5 linked regions of the Homo sapiens genome follow. The protein of the gene in region 1 purifies or fractionates together with the protein of each later gene. This does not show direct contact. Each region holds a gene or a part of one and is shown on either strand. Other genes may lie near its edges.

Region 1 (5,700 bases):
GATCATTTCCTCGTGGACATCTCCAACCATCATTTGCCCATCTTCCCTTCCACCGGGGAGAGTAACTATCTCTGTCAATTCTACCAAATGATGAACTCTTACTTTTTGTTCTACATCTTGAGGGGGACCTAGAATGAGATCTGGACCTAGACCACTTTCTGGTTCTCCTTTCTCTCTCTCTCCTCTGCCCATCTCTATCACTTTCTCGTTCTCTGCTCTGGGACCTGGATTTTTCTCCTGGGGAAGAATCTTTCACTCTTGGCTGAGATCTTTTGTTCTCTCTAGAAGTTTCTCTTCTTGGGGACAGTGATTCAGATCTTCTGCTTTCCCTAGTAGTATCCCTTTTTGGAGACCGAGACTGAGATTGCCTCCTTTCTCTTGCAATATCCTTTTTTGGGGACTGAGAACGGGATTTTTTCCGGCCTCTGGCTGACTCATTCTTAGGAGATGGTGATTGAGACTTCCTGCTTTCTTTCCCAGTTTCTCTTCTGGGAGATGGAGACTGGGGCCGCTTCTTTTCTTGTGGAGTGTCTTTGTTGGGTGACCAAGTTGTAGATGGAGAATGAAATCTAGATCTTCGAGTACGAGGCTTTTTGGTTTTATCTATGGTATCTTTTGGGCTTTCAGATGGTTGAGAAACAGTTTCAACCTTTTCATCCGCAAGATCAGAAGACGGCATATTATTTTCAGAACAGTGTGTCACAGAATTTTCATTCATTTGTTTAAGATCAGCATTTACAGATGGTTCAACTTCAGATTCATTTTGGTCACTGCAAAATGAATCACACTCCATAGGTATCATTTCATTGTTGTCCTCACTAAAATGCTTCTGAATCTGTTCAATGTGTGTTTTAGGCAACTCTGTAGATCTAGGATGTTCGGTCAGCGATTCATTCTTTTCTTCTAAAGATTTTTCCAATTTGGTGTTCAGAAGATTATTTTTTAGTAAGTTATTTTCAGAGTCTTGAATATTATTGAAATCTTCATTCCCAAAAGTATCACATGTTGCAATTATTTCTACATCTTCAGTTTCAACATGCCCAAGCAATTGAACCTCTGGGCTCTTAACAGATTGTCTGTCCACTGTCTGTATAATTTCACCCTCAGAAGATTCTAACTTGGGGCTCTCTATAAGCTCCTCTGTTTTTAGTGTAAAATCTTTATGTTCAGTAATTTCTACTAGGGAACTCTCTGTTATTTTTTCTTCATTAACCACTGACTCTACATTCTCAGATAAGTCACTTAGGGGACAAGATACAGGTTGGTACACTTTGCTTTCAGATGTTAAACATGTAGGAAAATCATTTGGAAGATGAACTGTACATACATCTGTCTTTACCTCTGATTGTGAAAGTCCAGATATCTGGTCTTGCTTTTCCAATGGATCACCTCCTTTTTCAAGAATATTTTCAGAAATCTCACTTTCCAAACACAAAACATTAGCCTCTATACCTGTATTCTCGAGTTTTTTAACTTCCCCTTCCTCACCAACTAGCACAGGAAGATCTTGAGCACAAGACTCAGAAGATGAAGATCCTACTCTTTCCTCTGTATCATAATTTGCAGTATGCTTCTCACTTTCTTCTATTTGCTCATTGCAACTTTTCAAGCAATTAGCAGACTGGTTTTCTACATGAGTCTGCACAGTACAAATGTTACTACTGTCTACATCTGGTTGGTGCTCTTTTTCTAACACAGGTGATGTGTCAGATTCTGCTGTTTCTTCATCTACTGAATCATTGGAAGATGATTTTTCAGGGGCAGCTACAGAGCTCCGAAGTTTCTTTTTCAGTAAAGGTGGTTTTCTTCCTCTTCTTACAGACTTCCGTTTTGGAGCCTGTCTTGTTTGCTTTTCTGACTCAGCTGAAGAGGGAACACTTAAAGATGGATTACTGTTACCTGGGGCATCACACCCAGAATTGTCTGATATTGGGGATCTCTGAGACTGACTGGCTGTTTCAGCTCTTGTGTTACGTGTAGACCTCCTTGTAGGAGTTGTCATTGCAGGTTTTCGTCTTGATCCTCTGGTATTTGATGTACCAGAAGTTTGCTTCTTTTCTTCCCCTTCTTGAGTATGTGCTAATGCATATCCCTTGCAAGAAGTACCTAATAATATTTAAAAAAAAAAAAAAAGTAAAAAATATGTTTTAAGAAATAGTAATTTGGCTTTAGCTAATTTTAGCATAAAATAGTCTGCAACAGAGTGAAACTAAATACTTATAAATAAAACTATTAATAAATGCATAGCTACTAACATCTGAGTAATATGACTTATTCATCAACTTTCTTAATGACACTGAAATAAGTTATAACTAGATTTGGTCCAAATGGGCAATTTTATAGAGAAAAAAAAAAAGGAAAATAACTTTTGGTCTTGTAACTGCTACTTGCTTAATTTTTTTTTTTTTTGGAGACAGGGTCTCACTCTGTCACCCAGGCTGGAGTGCAATGGCGTGATCACTGGAGCAATCATCGCGCACAGAAGCCTCAACCTCCCAGGCTCAAGCGATCCTCCCACCTCAGCCTCCCAGGTAGCTGGGACTACAGGCATGCACTACCATGCCCAGCTAATTTTTGTATTTTTAATAGAGACAGGGTTTTGCCATGTTGCCCAAGCTGGTCTCAAACTCCTGAGTTCAAGTGATCTGCCTGCCTCGGCCTCCCAAACTGCTGGGAATACAGGCGTGAGCTACTGTGCCCGGCCATGATCTGGGATTATCTAAGCAAAAGGAGAGAGAAAATGGTCAAGTTATCCATGAATTAATAAAGACTCAAACTATTTATTAATAATTAATTAACAGATGTTACTTCTAAAGATCTATGGTTTGGATATGAAAGCCTGAAACAGAAAGGAGACTTCTAATCAGTTCCTCAAAGCCTCCAAGTTGTAATTTCAAAAACTACAACAGAGTTTCTAGTTGGAATATTTTTTATTTTTAAAACTGACTAACAGATAAAACTGTGTTTCTCATGTACAACATGATGTTTTGAAGTACATATACATTGTGGAATGACCAAATCTAGCTACTTAATATATGCACTACCTCACATAGTTATAATTTGTTTAGTGAGAACACTTTACGTCCACTCTCTAGCAATTTTCAAAAATACAATATAGTCGACCCTTTAACAACACAGGGATTAGGAGCACCAACCCCCAACACAGTCAAAAATTGAAACAGTTTTTACTCCCCAAAACTTAACTGTTATTCACCAGACTCCTTACTGATAACAGTGAATTAATATATTTTTTATGTTATGTGTTACATACTGTATTCTTACAATAAAAGAAGCTAAAGAAAAGGTTATTACAAAAATCATAAGAGAAAATACATTATAATGCTGTACTGTATTTATTGATACCCTAAGTTTATATCATTTGTTTACAAGATGAATCATCTGTCTGAAATGGCAGGCAACTGCAGCTATAGATCTCAATCTGTTCCTATCAAGGAATTAAACTTCTTCTTATAAAGCCATAATTTTGCTTCTTGGGAGCACTTCCTACATCACTAATGGCACTTATGTGGGTCCCAAAGGTGTTACTCAAGGTTTACAGTATTGCACTAAACACTATGAAAAATATGCATGCACTGCAAGAGATCACTTTTTACTGTGATATGCAATCTATTAGAAAGACAAATGCTCACATGGAGATGATTACATTAAACCAGGTTTTGCGTTGTGTTTTGTTTTTTTTTTGTTTTTTTTTTTTTTTGAGACAGGCTGTTGTTCTGTTGCACAGGCTGGAGTGCAGTGGTGCAATCATGGCTCATTGTAGCCTCAACCTCCCAGACATTCACAACACTTGAGTACACCAGAATAGCAACAGGTGGCGGCCACAAAAATTGTTACACTGGTAAATACGTACTATATTTAATTTTACACAGCTATGATTTAATACTGTATCTTTACAGCTGTTTACATTTCTTATGACTGCAAATGGTGGAACCATGTGGTTTGAGTGTGTATATGTTTTGATAAATTTTAACTTGTTATCATAGATTTGTATATATTTTATGGTAGTAAATGATGAAATAGACTAGTACCTACATATATTTTATACATTAATGACATACCTTTTTCTTAATTTTTTTCACTATTTATAGGTTATGCGATTTTTCTGTTTTTTCAGTGTTGCAAATCTCCAAACATTTTCCGATATATTTATTTTTTAAAATTCATGTATAATGTCGCCACCCAGTTAAAACCTATGTTGTTCAAGGGTCAACTGTATTATTATAGTCATCACGTTTCACAATTGATCTTTAGAACTTATTCTATCCAGCTGAAACTGTATCCTCTGACCAACAACCTCCACCCCACCACACCTACCCCACCCCCTAATCTACAATCTAGTTCTACGAGATCAACTTTTTTAGATTCCACATATAAGTGAGATCATGTGGTTATGTGCCTTTCTGTGCCTGCCTTATTCACTTAGCCTAATGTCCTCCAGGTTCATCCACGTTGGCACAAACAAGATTTCCTTCTTTTTGTGGCAGAATAATATTCCATTGTGTGTGTATATAGATATATGGAGAGACTATGTATCTATCTATCTATATATACATACACTCTAGTTGAAGCAATTCTAAAGTTAAGTCATTGTCCAAATATTTATAGACGTATTTACAAGTTACTATGCCTTACTTTACAGCTTTTCTAAGTCATCAAACACACATTTTTATGAAACTGGAAGAAACTAATAATAATAATTTTTAAAATAGAAAATGATTTCACAAACTTTACCAAAATGTTCGAAAGATATGGTACTTGTTGGAAAAATAGTTCTTGGCAACACAGAAGAAATGAGAGGAAGGACTTCTGTTTCAACATTCCAGGGTATAAAACCAATTCTGAAAACATAATAAAGACATTTTTGTTTAAATGGTTTAAAAAATTAAACCACCAATTTAAAAGTATTAATTCTCTAAATCAGGTTAGCAATATTAAAATACAGTGCTTAAATGTTTTTTGCCCAAATAGCTAAAAATGTAAATTCAAGGTTACTCCTTGTCTAAAGATAGCTACCAATTGGCTAAAATTCAGAAAAAAACCTTTAAAAGTATGTTTTTCTGATAAATTCATGGCAAAGAAAAGATGAAAGCAACTTAACACAGATGTTTCTCTTTGAAATAATTTATGTAGTATTTTGTCAAGAATTTTTCCAGCTTTCATCATGTTCTTCACTACTCTAAAAAAATAAAATCAACTTTGAGGTGTAATTCAACATAAAATGCAGACTTTAAGCGTACATTTGCTAACTTTTTACCAAAGTGTGTGCATATATATATATATATGTCTGTGTTAACCACCACCCCAATCAAGAAAGAGAACATTTCTGCCCCCCTAGAAAGTGTCCTCACACTCCTTTGTATCCTTCTCCCTCCTTTCCAGGCAACCAAGGAACTGATTTATACCACTATGTTATATTCTAAAATTCCTCGACCTGGTGATGGCTCTTCAAAGTTCTCAGTGTCCCTAGAGACCTGTTAAGACCCCCTCCTTCAAATTTTCTCCATTCAAACCCAAACCACTTCTTGGCTTTCTTTTTCTTATTCATTTAGGTCTCCTAACAAAAGACTATCTGATTCAATATAAGGTAAGATTCTGGAGTAGGAGAAGCATGGGAAAAAAAATGTAACTTGTACATGTATAAAAATATGTAACTATAAGGAAGGGTTTCATAGTACATAC
Region 2 (5,700 bases), on another chromosome or scaffold:
GCACTGGGGCGCAGCTGAGAAGAGAAACATGGCTGAGGATTCTCTACTGATAAAGTCATTTAACCATCCATACTTCCATCCATCCAACCAACCATCAAATGTTTTTCAAGTGTTGACTATGTGCCAGGCACTATTCTACATACTCACAGTTTAAGGATTAATAATGACAAGGGTTAAGGATTAGTAGAACTAAAGGTGATATGACAGAGTGCCCCATGGTGGGTTTTTTCTAGCTAGGCCTCTGAACAGTGACATCTGAGTAGACACTAGCATGGCAGAAGTTGCCAGTTCTTCAGTCATTTGAAAAGCAAGATCCATAATGGGGAGCGGAAAGGACACAGTGGGACACCAAGAGCAAATGGGATGAAGTCAGAGAAATAAGCTGAAACCTGATCACATAAGCCTTTGTGGGCCACTTTAAGAAGCTTGATTTTTATGCAAGTGCAATGGGACACCACTGGAGGGTTTTCAGCTGGAAAGTGATATTATCTATCTACCTTTTTTTTAAAAAAATTCACTTTGGCTCCTTTATGTAGAGTGCATTAAAAGGTAGCAAAAATGGAAGCAGAGAGACTGAGGAGCATGCTATTACAATACAGTCCACTCAAGAGGCCATGGTGGACTAGGTAAATAGCAGAGGGAATGGATGAAATAAATGACGTTGCCACTAAAATATACCCCAAATCTAATAGCATCTGCTCTTAGACTGAACGTGGGAGGTGAAGACAAGAGGAATCACAAGAAGCTACTAATAAGCTTGAGGACTGTTGAAGCAGAGGCCAGGGTCTTCCTTTATGATCTCACCCCCACGGAGAGCCAGCCCATCTTCTAGGGGGACTCTCGTTTTACCTGCTGGTGGTCCCCAATCAAAATGAGGTGCTGGCAAGCTTTGCTCAATGTGGCAATGGTATGGGCCTCAAGGACTTCCGCAGCTTCTTCCACTATGACAATCCTCGGCTCCACCTTCTGTAGGATCTGGCGGTATTTGGCAGCACCTCAAGTGAGGAAAGAAGAGAAAGGCTCCTCTGAGCTGAGGCACAGGACCCACAGGGCCACTGGGCCTCTGGGAATCCACTTCTGTATCTTCCCTGAACCTGCATCAGCGACAGCTGGTCCTTATAGTGTTCTGGGTGGTCTCCAGAACATTAAAACTGTGTTGGTCACTGTTGGAGTTTCAAACCCAGCAGGAGAAAGTGAGTGAATTTCTTTTTTCTTTTTTTTTTTTTCTTTGAGACAGTCTCACTCTGTCACCCAGGCTGGAGTGCAGTGGTGCGATCTCAGCTGACTGCAACCTCCACCTCCCAGGTTCAAGTGATTCTTGTGCCCCAGCCTCCCGAGTAGCCAGGATTACAGGCACCCACCACTACACCCAGCTAATTTTTGTATTTTTAGTAGAGATGAGATTTCACCATGTTGGCCAGGCTGATTGCAAACTTATGACCTCAGGTGATCCACCTGCCTTGGCCTCCCAAAGTGTTGGGATTATAGGCGTGAGCCACTGCGCCTGGCGAAAGTGAGTGAATTTCACCAAGAGTTCTCAAAATATGGGTGCTTTCAGTAGCTTTTCATGGTATTTTCCTCTAACCTACCAAAGAAGCTCCTCTTTACCTGTCCTTAGATAATCTGGCACCAGAAGTGAACTTAGATGCAACAGGCAAATTTCTCCACAGTTTCTTACCTGTGGTTGTCATTCCTACAACCTGGGCATCTTTAAGAATGTGCAGGTCTTCCTGGAGTCTCAGCTCGGCCATTCTTTCTGCTGATGTGCGGTACTGGCGTTCATAGCTGAGGATCTTCCGGCGGGTGTCAGCCTGGTACAACTGTAGCCAGAGCCTGGAGAATGGGAAGAACCAAGGAAAGAAAGCCACATGCTCTTTGAGAAGGTGGAAGAACGCCCTTCAGTGTGCCCAGTGTATGAAGTGAACCTTGGACCCTTGGAGCATAGTGACAAACAGAGAGATACATTCAGGGACCTAAGAATCCAAAATGCCCAACAAAAAGATGTGCAGAGTAGTCAGGAGCTAAGGAAAGGGGTGAGATAAAGAACAAAGGTTAACTATGGGAAGAAAATAAGAGACTTTAAAAACTTTGGGAAGAATTCTCCCAGCTGCAGCATCCCTGCCTAATTTCCCTCCCCTCCTCTAATTCTCCATAGAGTATTTATTTTATTAGTAAAACTGATGATGTCACTAATCGCTGTAAAACTTTCCAACGGCTTTCTACTACTTTTTTTTTTTTTTTTTTAAAAGACGGAGTCTTGCTCTGTCACCCAGGCTGGAGTGCAATGGCGTGATCTTGGCTCACTACAACCTCCACCTCCGGGTTCAAGCGATTCTCCTGCCTCAGCCTCCCGAGTAGCTGGGATTATAGGCACCGGCCACCACGCCCAGCTAATTTTTTGTGTTTTTAGTAGAGACGGGGTTTCACTGTGTTAGCCAGGATGGTCTCAATCTCCTGACCTTGTGATCCGCCTGTCTCGGCCTCCCGAAGTGCTAGCATTAAAGGCGTGAGCTACTGCGCCCGGCCTCTCCTACTCTTTTTTTTTTTTCCTGTAGAGATGAGGTCTCACTATGTTGCCCAGGCTGGTCTTGAACCCTGGGCCTCAAGAGATCCTCTAGCCTCAGCCTCCCAAAGTGGTGAGATTACAGGTGTGAGTCATTGTGCCTGTTACCTCTCTGTTCTTTTCTGAGTTTTTATACCCATTTGTAACTTTTTATTTGTGGAATTACGTGATTAATTTGTTACCCTGGATAGACTCCATAGGCTCCACGAAGGTAATAATTAATTTGTTACCCTGGATAGACTCTATAAGCTCCATGAAAGTAGAGCAAAGTGTCTATTCTATCCCATGGCTGTATCCCTATCACTCAGCTCAGTGGTGGTGCTCAATCAATAATTAGTTAACATCGTTGAAGGTCTTGGAGGTGGAGAATGTTCTAGGAACAGAAGAGGAACTCCCTACATGGGTTGGCTAGATGTGGAACACAGTACCTATAAAGCTGCCAGCGAGAACTGAGGTCCAGCTGCCAAACATCCTCGATCTCGTTGGCCTCGGCTGCAGTCATGGTGTTCAGTTTGCGAAGCTCATCCTTCACTCTTTTTTTCATTTTCTTTTTCTGGTTGCGCTGGGTCTGCAGACATCAATACCAGGCAGGGTACTGTCTGAGCAGAGGCAGGCTTGGTTTTAAGCCCAAGGCAGGGGTCACAGCACGTAAGAAAAAGGGCTGGCATCACTGATTAATGTCAAGTGTCTTACATTCTCCCAACAGCTCTTCCACTGTAGAGTGGCTAAACAAGGACTCTGGAGCCAGTTTGCCTGGCTTCAAAGCCCTACTCTACCTCTTACTAGGTTGTGGGACCTAGTAAGGTAAATGACCTAACCTCTGTGTCCCTCAGTATCACCTTCTATAAAATGGGAATAATAATGGTATCTCTTTATAGGATTGTTGGCTTGTCAGGAGTAAATACGTGGAAAGCATTTATACTAGTACTAGCACTAGTTATCATTAAACATCTTTGACCATAGCCTGTTTCTTGTTCCTAAAATGCATGCCATGAAAGTCATGGGGGTGGTACTTTCTTGTTGAATGCTGTACAACCAGTGCCTAGCAACTGGTGCTTCACACAGGACTTGGCACAGTGCCTGCTAAAACGGTCCTACTGCCATCGTATCAACACAGTACCTTTAACAAGTGGTGGAAAGCACTGTTTATGAGAAAGTGCTCTCTTCTGGCCGTCACTGAGTCTGAGGCTATGAGCCTTTAGAAGGCTCGCAAGTCAGACAGATGTCACTAAATAAAGATCTTCCCGCTGCTTCAAAATGAAACAAATCAACCTTTCCTGATGCCTCCTGGGAGAGATGCTGAATCTGTGCTTCTAAGAATTGAGATCATGACTCCGCTCACCACATATAGTGATACTGAACTGAACTAGATCAGGTGCAAAGCCAGCACTCAGATGAAAACTGCATCCAAAGTTGCCCTTGAAAGTTCTCAAATCATTGGTAAGGTTTACAAATTCTTATTTTGAATATCTAATCCTCGATCATCATAGTTATGCATGGTAAACAGTGAGGACTACTAGGCTCCACCAAAAGGAGCAGAGGGAAGGCTACATGAAGACACCTGGGCATTCATACAATTCTGGCTTTAAGAGAAGTGTCAAATTCCAGGCTGAATGAAGGAGGAATATTCCATCCAGCCTGGAGGTCTCGCTTCATTGCTTACTTTAATCCTCTAAAATCTTAGTACATGTTCACAAACTCATTTGAAATAGAGAAAACAACACTCCTGAAGGCATTAAGTACTGAGACCGTGTTTGACCTGACTCATATGTGCTACATTCTTCCACAAGTTCTACAGAAGCACTTGGCTACCTGCTTCCTGTCTTTCTAAGTTGGCATTTCTTGCCAGAGGCCCTCTGAAGAACCATCGTATTTATATCCTTGGGAATCACTAAAGCCATCTCATACCAGGGGTAGGCTGTAATACAGGTACTTAGCTAATTGTAATGGTGAAGTGAATATACTGTATCAGAAGTGGGGGAAAACAAGCGGTCAGAACACTCTCAGGCCTGTTTCAACCCAAGGAAGTGAGTTTACCTGCCACTCTCCTGTGGCTTGCTCCTGTCCAGCTGCTGTCCCAGTGCCACAATGGTCTAGCCTCATGGCCAGAAGCATTTTAGCCAACTCCTGGTCTGCTCCACTCTCTTCCTTCTTCCGCCGCTGGGGCCTCACCACCTCTTCCTCCTCAATCACCCGGTCTGCTTGAATCAGGTCAGCTTCCTCTGCGATCTCTATCAGCGAACTCTCCTCCTCCCCTTCTTCCTCCTCATCCCCTTCTGCCTGGGCTAAGAGAGAGAAACAGGCAGGAGAGAGATGAAAACTCTTTTTTTTTTTTTTTTTGATATGGAATCTCGCTCTTTTGCCCAGGGTGGAGTGCGGTGGTGCGATCTTGGCTCATTGCAACCTCTGCCTCCTGGGTTCAAGTGATTCTCCGGCCTCAGCCTCCTGAGTAGCTGGGATTACATGCACCCACCACCACGCCTGGCTAATTTTGTAGGCTAATTTTGTATTTTTAGTAGAGATGGGGTTTCACCATGTTGGTCAGGCTGGTCTCGAACTCCTGACCTCGTGATCTGCCCGCCTTGGCTTCCCAAAGTGCTGGGATTACAGGCGTGAGCCACCGTGCCTGGCCAGAGATGGAAACTCTTGAAGCTAAGGGACAGAAGACGGCACCTGCAAGAGCTCAGATGCATGAAGACATTATCAAGGGTTTATGTGATTTTTTTTTTTTTTTTGAGACGGAGTTTCACTCGTTGCCCAGGCTGGAGTGCAATGGCACAATCTTGGCTCACCACAACCTCCACCTCCCGGGTTCAAGCGATTCTCCTGCCTCAGCCTCCCGAGTAGTTGGCATTACAGGCATGCACCACCACGCCCAGCTAATTTTGTATTTTTAGTAGAGACAGGGTTTCTCCATGTTGGTCAGGCTGGTCTCGAACTCCCGACCTCAGGCCTGCCTCGGCCTCCCAAAGTGCTGGGATTACAGGTGTGAGCCACTGCACCCAGCCCTATGTGATTATTTTTGAGAAGAGAAACTAAAAGGAATGAGAGGAGAGTTAGGAAAGGCTTAAGGTCTCCTTATATACTTTTTGTTACGTTTTACGTTAAAAAATCATACGAATATATGCCTTTTAAAG
Region 3 (6,454 bases), on another chromosome or scaffold:
TGAGCAAAGATCACACCATTGCACTCCAGCCGGGGTGACAGAGGGAAACTCTGTCTCAAAAAATGGAAGAAAAAAAGGAAAGAAAACTAAGATCAGCTTTCCAGATTCCTACCTCTCAGCTCACCCAGGTCAAAAATAAAAAATGCTCAGACCTAGACTTCACAGACAGGAAGTCTGCCAAGTCCCACTGGTGGCCTAGTTACAGTTTTCCTGGCCCAGCTCTGCCCACTGCACAAGTAACGGCACTGGGGTGGCACCTGGCAGTCTGTGGAGGAAGAGAGGCTGGGTGTAAAGAGGCCATGTAGGCAGTTGTAGAGTGAGAGGAGACAGGAATCTCTGCCTCTCTGCCACTTGGCAATAGGAACATCTCCCAAGTTTTTTCAATTTTTTTTTTTTTTTTTTTTGAGACGGAGTCTCACTCTGTCGCCCAGGCTGGAGTCCAGTGGTGCTATCTTGGCTCACTGCAAGCTCCGCTTGGGTTCACGCCATTCTCCTGCCTCAGCCTCCCGAGTAGCTGGGACTACAGGCGCCGGCCACCACGCCCGGCTAATTGTCTTTTGTATTTACTTAGTAGAGTGGGTTTCACATGTTAGCCAGGATGGTCTAGATATCCTGACTTCGTGATAAGCCCGCCTCAGCCTCCCAAAGTGCTGGGATTACAGGCGTGAGCCACCGCGCCCGGCCAGCTTTCTCTTTTCCTTTTTTTTTTTTGAGACGGAGTCTCGCTCTGCGCTCTGTCGCACAGGCTGGAGTGCAGTGGCGCCATCTCAGCTCACTGCAACCTCCGCCTCCCGGGTGCAAGCAATTCTCTGCCTCAGCCTCCCAAGTGGCTGGGATTACACGCGCCCGCTACCACGCCCGGCTAATTTTTGTATTTTCTACTAGAGACGAGGTTTCACCATCTTGGCCAAGCTGGTCTTGAACTCGTGACCTCGTGATCCACCCGCCTGGGCCTCCCAAAGTGCTGGGATTACAGGCGTGAGCCACCGCGCCCGGCCTCAATTCTTAACCTAGCTATCAATTGCAGTGTTAAAGAAAAACGCCTCAGTCCTAATGCACTTGGTCAAGAAAACACTGCACTACTGCAAAATGATCAAAGCAGCATTAAACTGTGGACTGCTGGATAAGTGCGGAGCTCTAGAGATGATGAAGGGGAGAGCATCTCTGCTCAGTAAAAGCTTTCATGGGCAGCGACTGAAAGAATGAGGCCCAGAGGAATTTCTAGGAACTTTCCAAGAGAGGAAATTCAAACCCGAGAACTCCCAAGAGGTGTCTCCCACACCCCTGTTCTCTGACCCTGCCATGGCCACCCTCCCCCGTCACAGGTCTCTGCGTGCCATGCACCTAGAGTCCACTTCGTCGCGACTCTCCAACACCTATTTTCTCCAGGAGCTGCTTCGGACCCGTTTGTTTTTTTTGTTTCGTTTTGTTTTGTTTTTCTGACAGCGACAGCCCTTGGGCAACGCTAATCATTCCAAGCAAATTCTGTCATGCCAAGACCTCCCTTAACAGCACGCGCCCACTTGTTTCCAACTCTCCTGCGAATTGGGCTTCGGGAGCCTCCGAAACCAAGGCTCGGAGATGTGGAGCGCACAGGGGAAGGGTCGAGCTGGGACCCACACCCGGCTCTTCCTCCCACACCGCCTGTTGAGCCCAAGGCTCAATTTCAACACAAAGCTCTCCTTCCCTCAATTCCTTCAACGACGGGTAACCTTCAACGAACACCTACCGGACCAGAACAGAGTGTACGAGCGGCGCGGGAAGGTGGCACAAAGGCATGGCCCAGAGGAGTGGCAGGAAGACTCAGCCGGGGCCCTCCACTCCCCAGCCTGCCCGGCCTGGGCAGAGCCGCCGGGCCGCCCGAGTCCTGGGGCTCGCGGAGGAACGGAGATGGCCTCCGCAGGGGCTCGCGGAAGCCCCCAGGGCGTCGGACCGTCTCACGCGCGCGTCCCGCGCCACTCACCTGTGGGACCCATAGCGTCGCCCGCTTCAGAGGTGGAAGCCGCCATTCCGCCACCGCGCCAAAACGTCGTCATCAAGCTGCGCGCAGAGCCACGCCCCGCGGCCGGGCGGGAAAAGCGCTTCTACCTCTTTGGGCCGTTACCTCAAAAGGTACGTGCGCAAAGCGAAGAAGGCCGGCCGGCCGGCCAGGGAGGGGAAATGGCGAGGCAGGAGTGCGGGGGGAGGGAGTGGTCCTTAGCTGAATGCGCCTGCGTTGTGGCGGCCTCTGGCGCCCCAAGGTAGGGCTCACGCACTTTCTCCCTAGCAAGGAATGCGCGTGCGCGTAAGCAGGGTTGTTGATTAGTGCCCCCCACCCCCCCCGAAGAGCGACCCCTAGTGGTGCACCGGTGCGGACCAGAAAATTGCACGCTTTCTTGAAACAGGTATTGACTGAGCGCCCAATGTATGCCTGGCACTGGGCTGGGTGCTGCCACCTAAGCGAGCACGACCAATGCAAGTCTATCAGGGACGCCCTGACCGCCAAGCAGCTGGCCCCTGCAGTCCGCCATGCCACTCCCGACGCCTAGCGCGCCGCTCAGCACACCGTGAGCGCCCACTAACTGTTGGGCTCCAATGACGCCGAGGAGGCGGCCCCGTCCCCGCGCTCCCGCCGCTCCCGCCAGGGCAGCCCGGGAGGCCAGACGCTGGCGCTGCAGGGAGAGGGCGGTGGGCGCATCCGCTAGGGGGCGCGGCGGGGCGGGGCGCACCTTTCGGCGGGCCTCGCGGATGGCGGCGCAGGGCGTAGGGCCTGGGCCGGGGTCGGCGGCGCCCCCGGGGCTGGAGGCGGCCCGGCAGAAGCTGGCGCTGCGGCGCAAGAAGGTGCTGAGCACCGAGGAGATGGAGCTGTACGAGCTGGCTCAGGCGGCGGGCGGCGGTATCGACCCCGACGTGTTCAAGTGAGCGGGGCGGGTGGGGGCCGCATGCTCGCCAGACACCCCCGACCTCTGCTCTCCGGGTACGCCCGGCCCGCTGGTCGGGAGGAGCCCCCGCTGCCCCCGCCCCCGTCCTTGTCCGGTCTTCAGGGAGGTGGCCGCGCCGGGCGGAGAGGGCTCACCGGCCCCGCGTCTGTCCCCGCCAGGATCCTGGTGGACCTGCTGAAGCTGAACGTGGCCCCCCTCGCCGTCTTCCAGATGCTCAAGTCCATGTGTGCCGGGCAGAGGCTAGCGAGCGAGCCCCAGGACCCTGCGGCCGTGTCTCTGCCCACGTCGAGCGTGCCCGAGACCCGAGGTCAGAGCTGGGCCCGCTGTCCCTGCCCCAGTGGCGGGGGTGGCGGGCGGGGAGGGGGCAGGCGCGGCACAGCGGCGGCGTGGCCCTGAGTGGCCAGGCCTGTCTGTCGGTCGGTCTAGGCCCAGCACCTGCAGGGCCCATCCGTGGGCTCTGCTCCTGGGCTTCGCTGCCAGCCTTAGGAGGCACGTCCAGGTCAGGTGGACGCAGAGTGCGTGCCCCAGGGTGGTCCAGGCTGGGTAGGGCTCCTCCGCTTAGCTCCTCCCCACCTCTTCACTCAGGCCTTCATCCTACAAAGTCGGGAATCAAGACGGTTTGGGGCTGGGCGCCGTGGCTCACGCCTATAATCTTTGGGACCCCACGGCGGGAGGATCCTTTGAGGCCATGAGTTTGAGACCAGTCTGGGTGACAGGGTGAGATCCTGTCTCTAAATGTTTTTCAAAAGACAGTCTCGATCTCTGTCCTGTGGTATACAGCATCCAGGGAAGTGCCCAGGGAGCAGGGCAGGCAGACGTCTTCCTGCCTTTACCCCACCTGGGCCCAGTTCCTGCCTCTGATGATTGCAGGAAGAGAGTTAGACGCGGAACTCCCAGGGTGCAGAGGCCTGCGGGGTCTGAAGGGCCTCCTCCCTCTCCAGTGTGGTGACTGGGCTGAGGAGATGCTGGGACTGAGAGTGTCATGGTGGAGCCTCCGTCCCTGCTCATCCTCTCCGCATGTTGCTTCTGCTCCCGATGGCTCTCTCTGAAATGCAGCACAACCTCCCAGGCCAATGGAAGGAGGCCCAGAGCTGGCTCCCTGCCTGGAAGCAGGAGGAGACCCTCACAGGCATCATGAGAAGGCGTGGAAAGCAGGCTGCCTTCATGGGGGAAGTGCCAGGGCCTGGGCACCCACGCCCGCTGACCCAAGAGGGCCCGGGCACCTGCGTGCTGGCCTCTTCACTGACCCTCGCTCTGTCTGCTCTCTTTGTGTCTCTCTCTGACCTCCAGAGGCCTCCTTTCTCTCTGCCAGGAACAGTAGCCCCCCTGCAAGGCCCTCGTTTTCCTCCAGCCCGCAGCCTGCGGCCTCTCTGGTTATGCTCCACAGCCCAGCTGCCACACACTCACCTCTCTCTCCAGGCCCCCCGGGTTCCCTCCGCCTCTCTTGCTGCCTGTTCTCTCCTTTTGCAGGTTGCGTTTATTGGCTTATCTCTGGGGGTTGGTGCTCTTCCTTGTTTTCATGGAAACTGCATGGCCCCAAGAGGCCCAAGCAGCTTTGAGCTGCAAGGGCAGGATCATGCAGGCCACCGCTGCCCTGCCGCTTAGCCACAGGGCACTATTTCTGACTCGGTTTATTAGAGACATGGTGTGGCAGTCTCTAGACCCCACAGTCGGGCTGGCATCCGGGGACAGGACCAACATCCCCACACCCCAGAGGCGAACTAGTGGTGAGTGTAAAGAGCCCCTCTCCAGGGGAAGACAGCCAGCCGGGTGCAGTGTGCTCTGCTGGAGAGCACAGCCCCAGGCGTGACAAACGCCTCGGCCTCTTAGAAGTTGTCCCCTACCTGGACAGGAAGTCTGGAGGCTGAAACAGAGACTCCCACCTTCCCAGAGTCTGCCAGGCAGTGCCACACAGATGCCATGTGCTGGTCCCATGGCCACACTCCAGCACTCAGCCCCCTTGCCCGCCTCACTCCTGAGTTGGGACACTTTCCAGGTGTCACCAGGTGTGATCAGGGGCCTGTGAGAGCCCAGGGGTCTTTGGTCGCGCCTCCTGCATGAGCCTCCTGACAGCGGCCACCTCACTGCCACCCAGAGCTCAGGCCCAAGAGAGGGTGGAGAGGGCCTGAAGGACAGGCCTGGAGTAGGGGTGTATGGACTGCAGGCTGAGATGAGCAATTGAGGGGCAAGTGTCCAGCAGGAGGGAGAAACTGGGAACAGAGTTCTTGTCACTCCAGGAGATGTTGCTGCTCACTTAGCACTCACTCAGGGCTCTGGGTGCCAGGCCTAGCTCTCAGGGCAGAGGGCGTGGCAGGGAAGTGAGATGATCACACTCAGTCCAGTGAGAGGCAGTGAGGAAAACCACCAGTGAGACCAGTGTGCTGGCTCACACCTGTAATCCCAGCACTTCGGGAAGTCAAGGCAGGTGGATTCCTTGAGCTCAGGAGTTCAAGATCAGCCTGGGCAACATAGCAAGACCCCATCTCTACAAAAAATACAAAAACTAGCCAGGCAGGGCCCGGCGCGGTGGCTCACGCCTGTAATCCCAGCACTTTGGGAGGCTGAGGCGGGCGGATCTCGAGCTCAGGAGATCGAGACCATCCTGGCTAACACGGTGAAACCCCATCTCTACTAAAAATACAAAAAAAAAATTAGCCAGGCATGGTGGCAGGTGCCTTTAGTCCCAGCTACTTGGGAGGCTGAGGCAGGAGAATGGCGTGAACCTGGGAGGTGGAGCTTACAGTGAGCCAAGATTGCGCCACTGCACTCCAGCCTGGGTGACAGAGCGAGACTCCATCTCAAAAAAAAAAAAAACTAGCCAGGTGGGCGTGGTGGTGGCGCCCATCTGTATTCCCAGCTACTTGGGAGGCTGAGGTGGGAGGATTGCCTGAGCCTGAGGGGGATGTTGCAGTGAGCCAAGAGCTTGTGACTGGACTCCAGCCTGGGCAACAGAGCAAGACCCTGTCTCAAAAAAAAAAAAAGAAAAGAAAGGAAAAGAAAAACCACTAGCAATGGAGTTGGGAGGAGGCTTCAGAGCCCAGAGAGCAGCAAGGGTTACACAGGGTGGAGCAGGAAGGGTCAGCAGAGCCCCACACGTGTGAGCTGGGGCAGTGGGAGGGCATGGGAGAGGCAGAGCGCTGTCCAGGTGCTGGTAGGCCCAGGGCAGGAGGAGGCAGGTGGGGGGGCACAGTCAAGATGTATGTGGGGGTTGTGGCACTGGAAATGCAGGCATAGAGGGGCCAGGAGGATTAGGGGGTGCCATGTGAGCGAATGGGGGCTCCAAGAGAATTTACCCGAGGACAGGAGTGGCCTGGAGTGCTGGGCCCCTCAGGGTCATTTGTTTCTCGAGGGCTGTGTCCTGGAAGCATAGCCCAGGTCCTGTAGGCTGGGTGGCAGAAAGCCACGACATGAGGGCACCGAGGCCCCATGGGGATAGAGTGGAACCTGAGGAGGAGGTGGAGGGGAATGGGGCAGACGTGTGCTGCTGAGTGAGAGGCAGAGGCCACAGATGGAATGCTGAGAGCTCTCTGAGG
Region 4 (5,700 bases), on another chromosome or scaffold:
GCCAAGGAAAAAATTTCTCTGGAAAAATAAATGAGCAGAGGTCTTTTCTCCAAATTTAATTGAGATTGAGAGTTTGTTTTGTCATCATTTATTTGATACTCCCAAGTAGGTAATAACCATTTCCTAAGAAAATTACAAATGACCTTTTAATTAAGAAAAATGCTTTATTTATTTGCTTTGTTTAGAAAAGACAACAAAATTTGTAAAAGAACCATAAATAAGGAATAAAATTTGACACGTAAGAACAGCAAATATATAGTCTTTCTAGTATTCATTTTATATTTAAATTCATTCCAGTTTTTAAAAAGCATTACAAAAGAAGTTGAAGTCAGAGTAGCCAACCCAGCCTGCCCTAACTCCTGCCACAAACTCAAGACATATATATACTATGAATTTTATGAATTTAAGGAATACATAGGCTATGAATTTGGCTTTCTATGATGCAACCATTCCATTGCGCAATCACAGGGAAAAATAGAACACAAATCAAACCAAACCAAACCAAACCAAACCACGATAGTGATGTGGTAATCTTGTAAACCTACAAACTTTATCACTGAATCAGATTTCCCTTTGCTGATGAGATTCAAAACAAGAAACAGAAAACAGGCTTTACATTTAGATCAAAAAGGACAACTTTTCTTTCTAATTAATCAAATGTATCACTGAAATTTACAAAAGGGAAGTATTCTAAAGATTGAGTATCTTTTGTTCTCAAACTCTTCATACACCACATACAAGTTATTATATATAACAAACCATGGAAAGAATGTAGTGTGTGTGTATGTATATATTTTTTATATATATAAAAAATTTAACAAATTCCAGTTTACTCCAGTTTTTAAACAGTATTACAAAAGAAGTTAAAGTCAGAGTAGCCAACTATACATTGTATGTGTATGTGTATGCACATATATATATTATATATATATATACATGCATACACACACACACTGCATTCTTTCCATGGTAAAATAAAATCAGCAATTATATAGTAGCTCAAAGCCTCTGAATAATTTAAGACTACAAAAATGACTATTCAGAAGAAATTACAGGGAAAAATTTAGGTAGGCAATGTAATTTAGTAAGAACCTTGGTTAAGAGAAAGTGAAAGAGATAAATTGTAACTTCCTATTTTATTGCTATTCTCAAGACAAAATCTCTAAAGATTTTATTTCTCATAGGAATATCATTTTAAAAAGGTATATGAAAAAACTAAATAATCTGCAAACCACAGAGACACAAATGATCACTGACAGTCAAATACAGAAGACTTTTTTTTCCTGAAGGACTGAATAAAAAGGGAATTATAACCTTGAGAAATAAAAGTTATATCAGATGGATTCCATGAATTTTATAATAGTGTGCAGCAGAGGGAAGGAAGAACACAAGAAACAAATATACTTCATATCAAAGAGTCGTTTCCTAGATGTTTTTATTCAGATTAACTGGGATAACTTTGTCCTATTAAACACTTTACTATCCGTTTAAAAGGAAGAAAGGCTGAGAATCTTTGATAACTTAACTCAATTAAAATAGTTAGAGAGTTTTATTTCTCTTTTACTTAATTCAAAACTTGAAAGTTATACCAAAATATAATAGGCAAACATGCATGCAAAATGACCCTGCAATTAAGAAAATTGCTGGGACCAAATGTTGTTTTTAAGTTCTACAGTAAAACAGTCTCCCAGACATTTAATGTCATGTCATTTGGTAAATGAAAGTTTCCTCAAAGTAAGAGCAGCAAGAAGACCTAAAAATTATGCTAGTGAAGAGTCTGACTGAAAAAAAAAACAAAAATATGGGATCACATTGGTCTAACACTAATTTTATTTGAAGTTACTACAGAACTGAATAAAATGCCGATACCAATACATAAAAATTTATTGAGCTGGCAACAAGGAAAGCATGATGTCAGCCACCAATATCACCATCCACATTCCCAAATAGCATGAAGACTTTAATTCTTGAACTGACTTCGTGCTAAAGTTACAGTAAAAATAAAAACCTGAGGCAGGAGGCATTATTAAACATAGATGAATTTAGTTTGGCACAATTTTGACTCAAATTAGCCTAGCACTTTAACAAATTCAGTCAAAAACAGAAAAATGCAAGCTTAAATGTTACAATTTTCTAAATGTGCTACATTCTTCACCAAACAGACTGATACAAGATGTCTTACGCAACTCTCGGGAATATTCAAATAAGCAATACCACACACAAACAAAATGCAGGATAACAGGATACTCAGAAACATACACACATACACACCCACACAAGTCCTTACCTTCATGGCATGGATTTCTTCAAGCAATCTTTGCGCCCGTCTTTGGTTTTTTAACAGTGCATCTTCAGTACCCCTGCAAAAAATACATTACGATATGTAGCCAGGCAAAGCATTAATTTTAGACTTATAGTGTAATGGATAATCACTTCATTTCTTTTTAGAAAAGCGTAATAAATCTCTAAATAACAAACACGCCACTATCCTACACTGTCCATTTCCCCCACTCCCAAAACACACCTCAATTTACTAACCAAACCCATATGTTGGAAAATGGCAAAAATAAGTACTGTCTTGCCATTGTATTAATGACTATTACTTTTGATAGTTTGCCTTCTCTAGTTCCTTAATAACACTTTTTTAAATCAATCAATCGTACATTGTATTTAATGTAATATAAATGTCATAATTTACAATTAGAGTTTGACTATAATTTTATCAAATGAAAATTTGCTCTCTGGCATTTAAGGAAAAAATAAAGAAGGGCTATATTCTGACATATTTATGAAAGAATAGGAAATTAATCAGGAACAAAACATACTTGAAGACTAAGTATTCATGCTTACATCATAAAAAGAACTATAAATAAAATACTTTTTCACTAACACTAGTGATACTGAAAATACAAAATATTGTATTTTTCCAAAAAATTACATGGAACACAATGTTCTAATAAACACTTTCATAAGGTACTGAAGATTTCAAATTACTTAGCAATTCAAGAAAAAATGTGATATAAAATCTTCAAAACTGATTCTTAAGGTATTACTAGATTTGTTAAGCTGTATCAGTATCTTAAAATAACTTCTGATAACACAAAACACACAAGCCCAAGGGAATTTCATTCTAAAAAGACCAAAAGAGAGTTTTGCAAAAGCAGCAAAAAAATTCATCCTGTATCTTGAGCAATGATGGTCCAAACCATAGAAGGGCATGCTGACACAGCACATTCTATCTCACTCACATCATCTCCGCATACAAAACAAAAATGGTGTATAAGACATTTAATTACTTCTCTATATCCCACCCTAAACATTTTAAAGTATCAAATAAAAACAACTTTTGACATTTTATTAGTCACAAGATCATTACTTTAAATGACTAACTTTTTTGACTTCAGTCGGCCAACACTCCTGACAAGTTTTCGGATAACTAAAACTCGAATTCTCTTCACTTCTTTTCTCATCTTCACAACCTTTGAAGAATAAAGCAATAATTAGAAGAAAGGCACTTACTTCAGGAACAAACACACTTTATTTTGAGTCTTAATATTTGAGACTTAGTCTACCACTTTAACTACTTTTATTGTCTAACTATATTCGTAGCTTGATGAAATCAAACCTCTTCCATAAATAGTGAAGGAATAAATCAACAGTCTAAAAATGTGTCTGAGAGCTTAAGAAAAACAAGTTATAATTTTTTAAAAAGTCACAGTATTACCCGAGATAAGTATTTTAATGTTACACTTATATCTTGCTGGGCTTGGAATATAATAAACAGTGAGTTCCCTGAAATCACAGCCTGTCATATTCATCTTTGTATTCCCACCGTTAAAACAAAGCCTCACTCATAATGGTAGGAATTTAATTTGTTGAATGACTATTTTAATTAGCAAATTAGCTTTTAATTAGCAATTTATTTTACATATTTATAAAACAAATCTTTCATTATTTTTAGTAACAAATTATTTCAAGTATAATTTTAAAAGAAGATCCACAAACACAAGGGCATTGTGTGCAAGCATATGTGCATGTAAACATACATGCCCCCCCCCCACACACACATGCACACACATACAAATACATAATTTAAATCACCCTACTGGAGAACAATGTTTAACTCTAAGAACAAAAAGCAGAGCTATAGGCCAAAAAATGGAAATTATAGTTATAAAAAAAATACACATTATAACAGCTTTCAGTGCAATGGCATGTAATTACGGAGTTTATATTTCATCTATCAGTTACGAGGCATACATCTTAAAAATTACTCCTGGAATGTCCTTCTTCCCCTTCTTCACTTTAGGAACTATATAAAATTCAGGTTCAGATATAGTCATTCCAGTGATACCTTCAATGACTTCTTCAGTTAAGGATAACCACTCCATCCCTGGGGTCCCCACTATACAGATTCTGTCATTAAAGCATCTACCTCACTGCACTGTTACTAATGGCTCATGTGGCTGTCTTTTTCTATAGACAGCAAGCTCCTAGAAAACAGGAGTCTTGTAATATTTATATAGTGTTTTCTTTGCCCTGCAAGAGTGCCTGGCACAAAAAATTCCTCAAATTCTTCTTGCCAAAATAACATTATCAACATCATCCTGTTTCTTTAAGGCTCTTCCATTTAATTAATATCTTCTCTTACCCTTCATGTCATTCACTCCCTTATTCACTGAAGATATTAGCAACCAACTTACAATTTCTTTACACCCTAAGTTCTGCCATCATTCTGTGTAACTTGCATGTCCACTTGAATAGCCCATCTGATAATTATATCTTCACTTCTTTACTTATTTTCTAAAGACCTAATCTATTCTATCTCAGCCATCCACTTCCATGGCCACACTGTCAACCTTGTCATCACTCATAATATTCAATTTCTAAAACCATTAATTCAAATATTCCACACTGTGATCACAACCTCTATCAGCTTGCTTGTTCAACTCCACCCACCACAACCATCTTTGACTTCATTAGGACCACCAATCCACTGACTCCTACACTTAATGTTCCTCTTTTTATGCAGTTTAGATACATGATAACATCTGCCAATTTCTTAAACTCCTGCCCCTCTGGTGAGGAAACCGTAGTCCTGAATGAAAAAAACACTCTGAGTTCTTCATTGTCATATGCCAACAGCAAATACTTGTAACATTCTGTCTACTATAAATTCATCATAATTAACCTCAAGTGGACCCCCATTCTTCCTAGCCATCCTGTATTTTTCTGTTCAGTTCACTCTACAATGCCTGTTTTAAGCTTTTGCCTACTCTCCTAAATCCTCTAGTCTCCGTCCTCCTTTCTCTCTTTCAATCGTGTGGAGAAAATAATTATCAGTTGGGAACCATCATTTTTCTACTACCATGAATGCAAATGTACTTCCATGACCCATCTTCCTTTACGAATAAAGTTACAATATAAGAAATACCACTACACATATCTGAGTTTATCTTTTAACTGTCTTTTAGAGCCCATTCTCTTCTGCCTTCCTAGAACCTCTACTATGGATTATCCCTTTACCATAGCATTGTCATTCTCTTCCTTTTAATGCATTTGTTTCCCACTGATTTTTAAACATGATTGAGTCATTTTCATTAGAGACTAAATAAACATCCTCATTACATGGTTCACTAGGACCACTCCCTCTTCAGTTGTGTGGAGAACTAAGCTTTTAGAAAGAGACGTCCAAACTCA
Region 5 (5,700 bases), on another chromosome or scaffold:
AGGGAGACAGACGCAGATGCTGTGCTGGACAAATGCCCTGTCTCAGCCGAGCGCGGTGGCTCGCGCCTGTAATCCCAGCACTTTGGGAGGCCGAGGCAGGTGGATCACCTGAGGTCAGGAGTTTGAGACCAGCCTGGCCAACATGGTTAAACCCCGTCTGTACTAAAAATACAAAAAACTAGCTGGATGTGGTGGCGGATGCCTGTAACCCCAGCTACTCAGGAGGCTGAGGCAGGAGAATTGCTTGAACCTGGGAGGCGGAGGTTACAGTGAGCCGAGATTGTGCCACTGCACTCCAGCCTGGGTGACAGAGCAAGACTCTGTTTCCAAAAAAAAAAAAAAAAAAAAAAACGCCCTGTCTCTGTCAGACCAATAACAGACTTAAAAATAAATAAGGAAGGATGTTCAGAAAGAAGATAAATAAAGAGACAGGACCCCAAACAGTACGCAGGCCTCGCCTGGACCCTAATCCATACAAACCACCACAAGACAACGCGCAGAACAGCTAAGGATGCCTGGATAAGGCAGAACGCCCACAGCCACTCTGGGTTCAGCATATTGGTCTTTCTACCTTAATGTATGTTTGAAGGTTTTCAAAACAAAAAGTAAAATCATCAGTAAGATTAAGCCAGAGCTATGGGGCCCCTGCCGCACTGCACCCCTGGGCCTGGAGCCCGGGCTGCCCTACCTCGCCTTCCTCTCCAGCTCCTCCTCCAGGGACTTCAGCCTTCTCTCCCTGTCTCGGAGTTCACGGGCGTAGCTGAAGTCATCATCCAGCTCCTCCTGCCTGGCCGCCTGGCGTCGCTATAAAACACATAGAGCCTGGCCTGTGAAATCAGAACTGACAGGCGTGACCCCGCAGGGACAGGTCCTACCCACCTCCTGGTCCTTCACAAATTGTTCTTTCAGCCTCTGAAACTGCTCACGCTTCCGGGCATCCAAGGCCATCCGTTCTGACATCTGCCGGTCTACATTGGGACAGTAAGGGGCGCACTGTCACAAGGAGGCCCCAGCAAGGCCCCCCGGAACTGCAGAAGGGAGGACTTGGGGCCACTCACCACTCAGTGCACTCAGGACCCTGGATGCTGCTTCCCGGGCATGAGCGATTAATTCTTGTTTTGCAATTTCCATACGTAATTCCTGAGAAAGACAACTGGTAATCAAAGCATCCTGGCCGGGCGCAGTGGCTCACGCCTGTAATCCTGGCACTTTGGGAGGCCGAGGTGGGTAGATCACATGAGCTTAAGAGTTCAAGACCAGCCTGGACAACATAGCAAAAACCCATCCCTACTAAAAATACAAAAATTAGCCAGGTGTAGTGGCAGGTGCCTGTAGTATCAACTATTTGGCGGGGGTCAGGGGAGCTTAGGCAGGAGGATCCCTTGAGCCTGGGAGGTGGAGGCTGCAGTGAGCCATGTTCGAGCCGCTGCACTCCAGCCTCCTGGCTGACACAGTGAGACCCTGTCTCAAAGAAAAAAAAAGCAACCTAATCCTCTGACCCCTCACCTAGGATGCCCAGGACACCTGTGGACTCAGGGCCGGCAGGGGAGACACATGGTCCAAGGGTTCGAGGAGGGACCAGGTGATGGCAGGACACCGCCCCCCCGCCCACCCTCCCCCACCCCCAGGCTCTCAGCAGTGGCAAGGCTGGTTCCAGGCCATGGACGGGAGCTGACCGGCTCTCACAGAGACATCTGGGGCTGAGGACCCCAAGGCTGTGTGTGCCCACCCTGGAAGGAAACCAAGAGGCCTCAAGAGGGGGCTTCCCCGCTCAGCCTCTTAGGCCTGCCCCTGCCCAAGTATCCCTGCTGCCCACCAGGCACCAGGCCAGAAAGGGTGTTCCTGGGAATGGCACTGATTGTACCACCGAGCCCCTCCCAGAAGACACAGGAGAGGCGTGGCCCGTCCCTGACACACTGTCCCTTCCCAGCAGGAAGGGGGCTTGCAAAGGGCGAAGGCCATCTGGAGTGCAGCCAGGACTGTCTGTCCACAGCTGGCGGGCCCGGGGAGGCCCCAACGGAGTTTCCCACGCCAGCAAAGCCTGGGCTTCAGGCTGAGCCACCCAGACCCAGGAGGAGAAGTCAGAGCCCCTGCCTGGCATCTGGCTCCGGACATTCATCTCAGCTCCCCCTTGGCACCCACCCTTCATCTCAACTCCCCGTTGACACCCACCCTTCATCTCAACTCCCCCTTGGCACCCACCCAGGCCACCGCCAGGACAGAAAATGCCAGAAGGGAGGCCCCCATCTTGCACAGCCCTCATGTCCGCCCCACCAACCTGAGACCCCAGGAAGCAGAGGCAGGGGCGAAGAAAGCCCCCGAGACCTGTGGTGCCACGCACCTTCTCCTCCTTGCTGACAGAGCTGTGGCGGGCCACCCTCTCCATGCGCCCAACGTAGACGGCACAGTCCTTCTCAATCTCCTTCAACTCCTCAAGGGAGAAAATCACCGAGATCCGGGGGACAGGGACGTCGGACCAACAGAGGTAATGCTGCCAAAGGGGATGCAAGCACAGCCACCAGCACTCAGCCCCAGCCTCATACTCAGCCCCAGGGAAGACCGGCCCCTCTCTTCCCCACACATGAGCCCCTCCTCACCCGGGGGCAGCAGAGCTTCAGCAGGTTAATGGTCTTTCCGCAGACGTATATGTCGTGGGCAATGTGCTTCAGAAACACGGGAACACAGTCCTCCACCTCTTTGGAGATGAGCACGTAGCCATGTGTCCAGTACAACTTATCTAAGGTAGGGTGAACACCACGGTGGCCGGCATGGCCATGGCCCTGAACCCAGGCCCACAGGCACGGACCCCTGCCCCGCAATCAGCTGCCACCTACCTCGGAAGCTGAGGTACTCGTGGTTCACCTGAATCATGAACTCGCCATAAGCGTCTCTGAACACCCCGCTGTACACCCAGTCGTGGATGAACCTGCAGTGGGGGAAAAGCAGGGGTAGATGTGGTCAACGGAGAGGTGGGTGGGGCGTGGCTGTCAGTGAGGGGTGGGACAGGGGCGTGGCTGTCAGTGAGGGGCAAGTGGGGGCGTAGCTGTGAGAGGTGGAGTGGGGTGTGGCCATCCATGAGGGGCGGGATGGAGTGGGGGCAGGGTGGGGGGTGTGGAGTGGGGGCAGGGTGGGGGGTTGGGGGCTCCTGCCCAGTCCACCTATCCTGCCCTCCCCTTCCTGTGTGACCCCCACATTCAGCAGGTGTCTGACAAGGGACCGCTCTCAAGTGTCTGCCTGGTGGGAGTGCGCGCCCGCCGCGCCTGCCCAGCCCACTGCCCACCGGGTGTAGGGCTCGCAGCTGGTCTTCAGCAGGGACAGCAGTACAGGGTAGTGCTCGTTGCTGCAGTTGTGCAGAGCCTCCTGGTAGAGGTAGGACAGCAGCTTCACGCCCTGCAGACCGCAAAGGGGGTGGGGGGCAGCTCAGCGCACCCAGCGCTGGGAGTGAGGCGCAGCCCTGCCGGCAGCAGCCCTCCAGGGACACGCTCAGCCACCCCCGTTTCCTGGAGCCCACCAGGCTGACACACTCGGCAGGGACGCACAACTCACGGTGGGAAACGCGGCCCTGGGGCCTCCTCCACAGGTGCCCGGGAGCACAGCGCCAACGCCACAGAGCTCGGCCAGGTACCTAGACCCAGAGGCAGGATGAGACCAGGTGACCGGGCTCAGGGTTCCCAGGCCTGGATCAGATCGTGAGCAAAGTCTCCACGTATCTTTATGCTCCCTGGGGCAACTAACTTTAGATGCAGGCTTTAAAAACCACAGGCACCCCAACCACCCAGAAACGGGCTCCCTGCAGGACTCGTGTGCAGCCCTGTGCCCCTGCGCTGTCCACACACACCCCACTGAAGTACCCACACCCAGCAGGCCCTCCCTCCCAGGATCTGGCCAACACACGAATCACCCTGATCCTCCCACTTCTGGGGGCTGCACCTGAGAGCCCCTCCCATCCACACAGTGGTACCAAGCATCTGCCACAACTCGCACCCTTCACAGCCCAGCTCCCCTGCCCCACAGTGTCTCAGCCCTTGGGTCTCCTCAGCGCTGCCACACTCTGCTCCTCAGCCTGGAAGGTCGCCTCTCCCACTGCTCCCAATGCCCAGCTCCTCACTCTTCCTTCTCTGATGGCACCTGCCAATAGCCCCCGAGCCTGGTTGCTCACTAACCAGCTTGTGTGTACCGGACGCCACATCTCCAGGGACCCTGTGTGCCAATTAGGCAGGAGCCACCGGACCTGGAGGGCCTGGATGGGGCCAGCTGTGGTGGGCCCACGGCAGACACACCCGCTCAGCACCGGGCACCTGGTGAACTCGGCCGGCCAAGGGCCATCCGGTCGCCTGCTGAGGGCTGTTCTCACAGGCCCTCCTTGCCAGGGAGCAGGGCAAACCCTCCACCACCCAGCAAGCCCCACACCGCTCCCGCAAAGTCCCCTGCTCAGCCGCCATGCTGAGGCTCACCTGAGCTGCCGGCCAAGTTTCTTGAAGAGAAAACCAATGGTGAGGAGGCTCAGGGTGGGCGGAGTGGAAAGGACGCAGGCCCGGTAATACTGCAGGTACCTCCTCAGGCCACTGGTGAAGGCCTGTGGGCAAAGAGGCTGGGAGGAGGGCGGCCAGGCACATGGACGCAGCCGTGCCCAGGGCCTGAGGGGCACCAGTGCTGGGAACAGCGCTTTGTTTCTTGCCTCAGCTCTGGGCTCCATTTCCAAGCAATGGGCCTCTGTGAGCCACACCCCGCCACCGGGCCAGGTGGAAATGCGGCCCATCCACAAGAAGCCAGAAGCTGTGGCCCACCACCAACCCTTCCTCTCATCTGAGCCCAGCTGCCCCAGGGGCGCCCACCACCAACCCTTCCTCTCATCTGAGCCCAGCTGCCCCAGGGGCGCCCACCACCAACCCTTCCTCTCATCTGAGCCCAGCTGCCCCAGGGGCATGGCAAAGGGGCTGGGGGGGAAATGGCGGCCGTGCTCTGTGCACAGACACTAGTGCTGTGAGGGCTGCAGCTGCTCCGACCACAGCTGTCTCAGTGGCACCAGCATCCTGGGCAACGCCACAGCAGCAGGCCCTGCAGGTCACACTAAGACAGGGGCACCCTGGACCAATCTCAGTCCACCCACCCCAGGAGCCGCCTGGCTATGCCTGCCAGATGAACAAGAACCACAGTCCAGCCCTTCTCAGCGTCCCCTGCTCTGACCCCTTCTCCACCATCTCTAGCTCTCAAGTCCCCCGGGGCTGAGCCTCTGCCTAGAAGCTCTCCCCGCCCCGTGCAGCTCCCACCATGCCCACCTCCACAGCCCATCTAAAACCTACACCTCACCACATCACCCCACCCGACAGCCCCTGCTGCAGCAGCAACAGTCAAAGGAGGCTGCGCTGCCTGGCTCCTCCAGGGCTCTCTGCCCACCTTCCCCAACACCCTCCTCTCAATCCCCCAAACCCAAATGCCCCATCATCCACCTGCCTATTCTCTCCCACTCAAGGTGCAGCCCCTGTCCCATGGGCCTCTTCCCAGCACATGAGCCAGCTTCAAGACTCACCAAACAGCAGCTTCCGGAGCCAGACTTGGCTCAGAACTCCCAGCAATGTAAATTCACCCAACAGGAGGGCCCTGCGCTGTCAGTCATCCACAATGTGCCGGGCCCACTGGGGAGCAGGCAGCAAGAGCCCCACTCACGCCTTTCCTGCCCTGCGCACCCCTTATGCTGGC

The links.
Region 2: the proteins of SCAF11 (region 1) and ZNFX1 purify together in Homo sapiens (affinity purification with mass spectrometry; one large-scale study listed by BioGRID and IntAct). This does not show direct contact.
Region 3: the proteins of SCAF11 (region 1) and MZT2A purify together in Homo sapiens (affinity purification with mass spectrometry; one large-scale study listed by BioGRID and IntAct). This does not show direct contact.
Region 4: the proteins of SCAF11 (region 1) and SRFBP1 purify together in Homo sapiens (co-immunoprecipitation; one large-scale study listed by IntAct). This does not show direct contact.
Region 5: the proteins of SCAF11 (region 1) and TUBGCP6 purify together in Homo sapiens (affinity purification with mass spectrometry; one large-scale study listed by BioGRID and IntAct). This does not show direct contact.

The regions. Positions count from the first base shown.
Region 1 is NC_000012.12:45,926,754-45,932,453, forward strand, and holds part of SCAF11 (protein SCAF11), read right to left. Parts: intron 4,860-5,700; coding exon 4,753-4,859; intron 2,107-4,752; coding exon 1-2,106. UniProt on the Homo sapiens protein: Plays a role in pre-mRNA alternative splicing by regulating spliceosome assembly.
Region 2 is NC_000020.11:49,252,817-49,258,516, forward strand, and holds part of ZNFX1 (NFX1-type zinc finger-containing protein 1), read right to left. Parts: intron 4,849-5,700; coding exon 4,601-4,848; intron 3,132-4,600; coding exon 2,992-3,131; intron 1,834-2,991; coding exon 1,679-1,833; intron 996-1,678; coding exon 850-995; intron 15-849; coding exon 1-14.
Region 3 is NC_000002.12:131,488,650-131,495,103, reverse strand, and holds the start of MZT2A (mitotic-spindle organizing protein 2A), read left to right. Parts: upstream 1-2,706; 5' UTR 2,707-2,727; coding exon 2,728-2,897; intron 2,898-3,079; coding exon 3,080-3,228; intron 3,229-3,867; exon of another isoform or gene 3,868-3,944; intron 3,945-4,211; coding exon of another isoform or gene 4,212-4,391; intron 4,392-6,454. UniProt on the Homo sapiens protein: Required for the recruitment and the assembly of the gamma-tubulin ring complex (gTuRC) at the centrosome.
Region 4 is NC_000005.10:121,971,975-121,977,674, reverse strand, and holds part of SRFBP1 (serum response factor-binding protein 1), read right to left. Parts: intron 3,480-5,700; coding exon 3,391-3,479; intron 2,361-3,390; coding exon 2,288-2,360; intron 1-2,287. UniProt on the Homo sapiens protein: May be involved in regulating transcriptional activation of cardiac genes during the aging process. May play a role in biosynthesis and/or processing of SLC2A4 in adipose cells.
Region 5 is NC_000022.11:50,223,453-50,229,152, forward strand, and holds part of TUBGCP6 (gamma-tubulin complex component 6), read right to left. Parts: intron 4,577-5,700; coding exon 4,455-4,576; intron 3,626-4,454; coding exon 3,547-3,625; intron 3,391-3,546; coding exon 3,281-3,390; intron 2,927-3,280; coding exon 2,835-2,926; intron 2,738-2,834; coding exon 2,598-2,737; intron 2,492-2,597; coding exon 2,342-2,491; intron 1,141-2,341; coding exon 1,059-1,140; intron 969-1,058; coding exon 880-968; intron 805-879; coding exon 689-804; intron 1-688. UniProt on the Homo sapiens protein: Component of the gamma-tubulin ring complex (gTuRC) which mediates microtubule nucleation.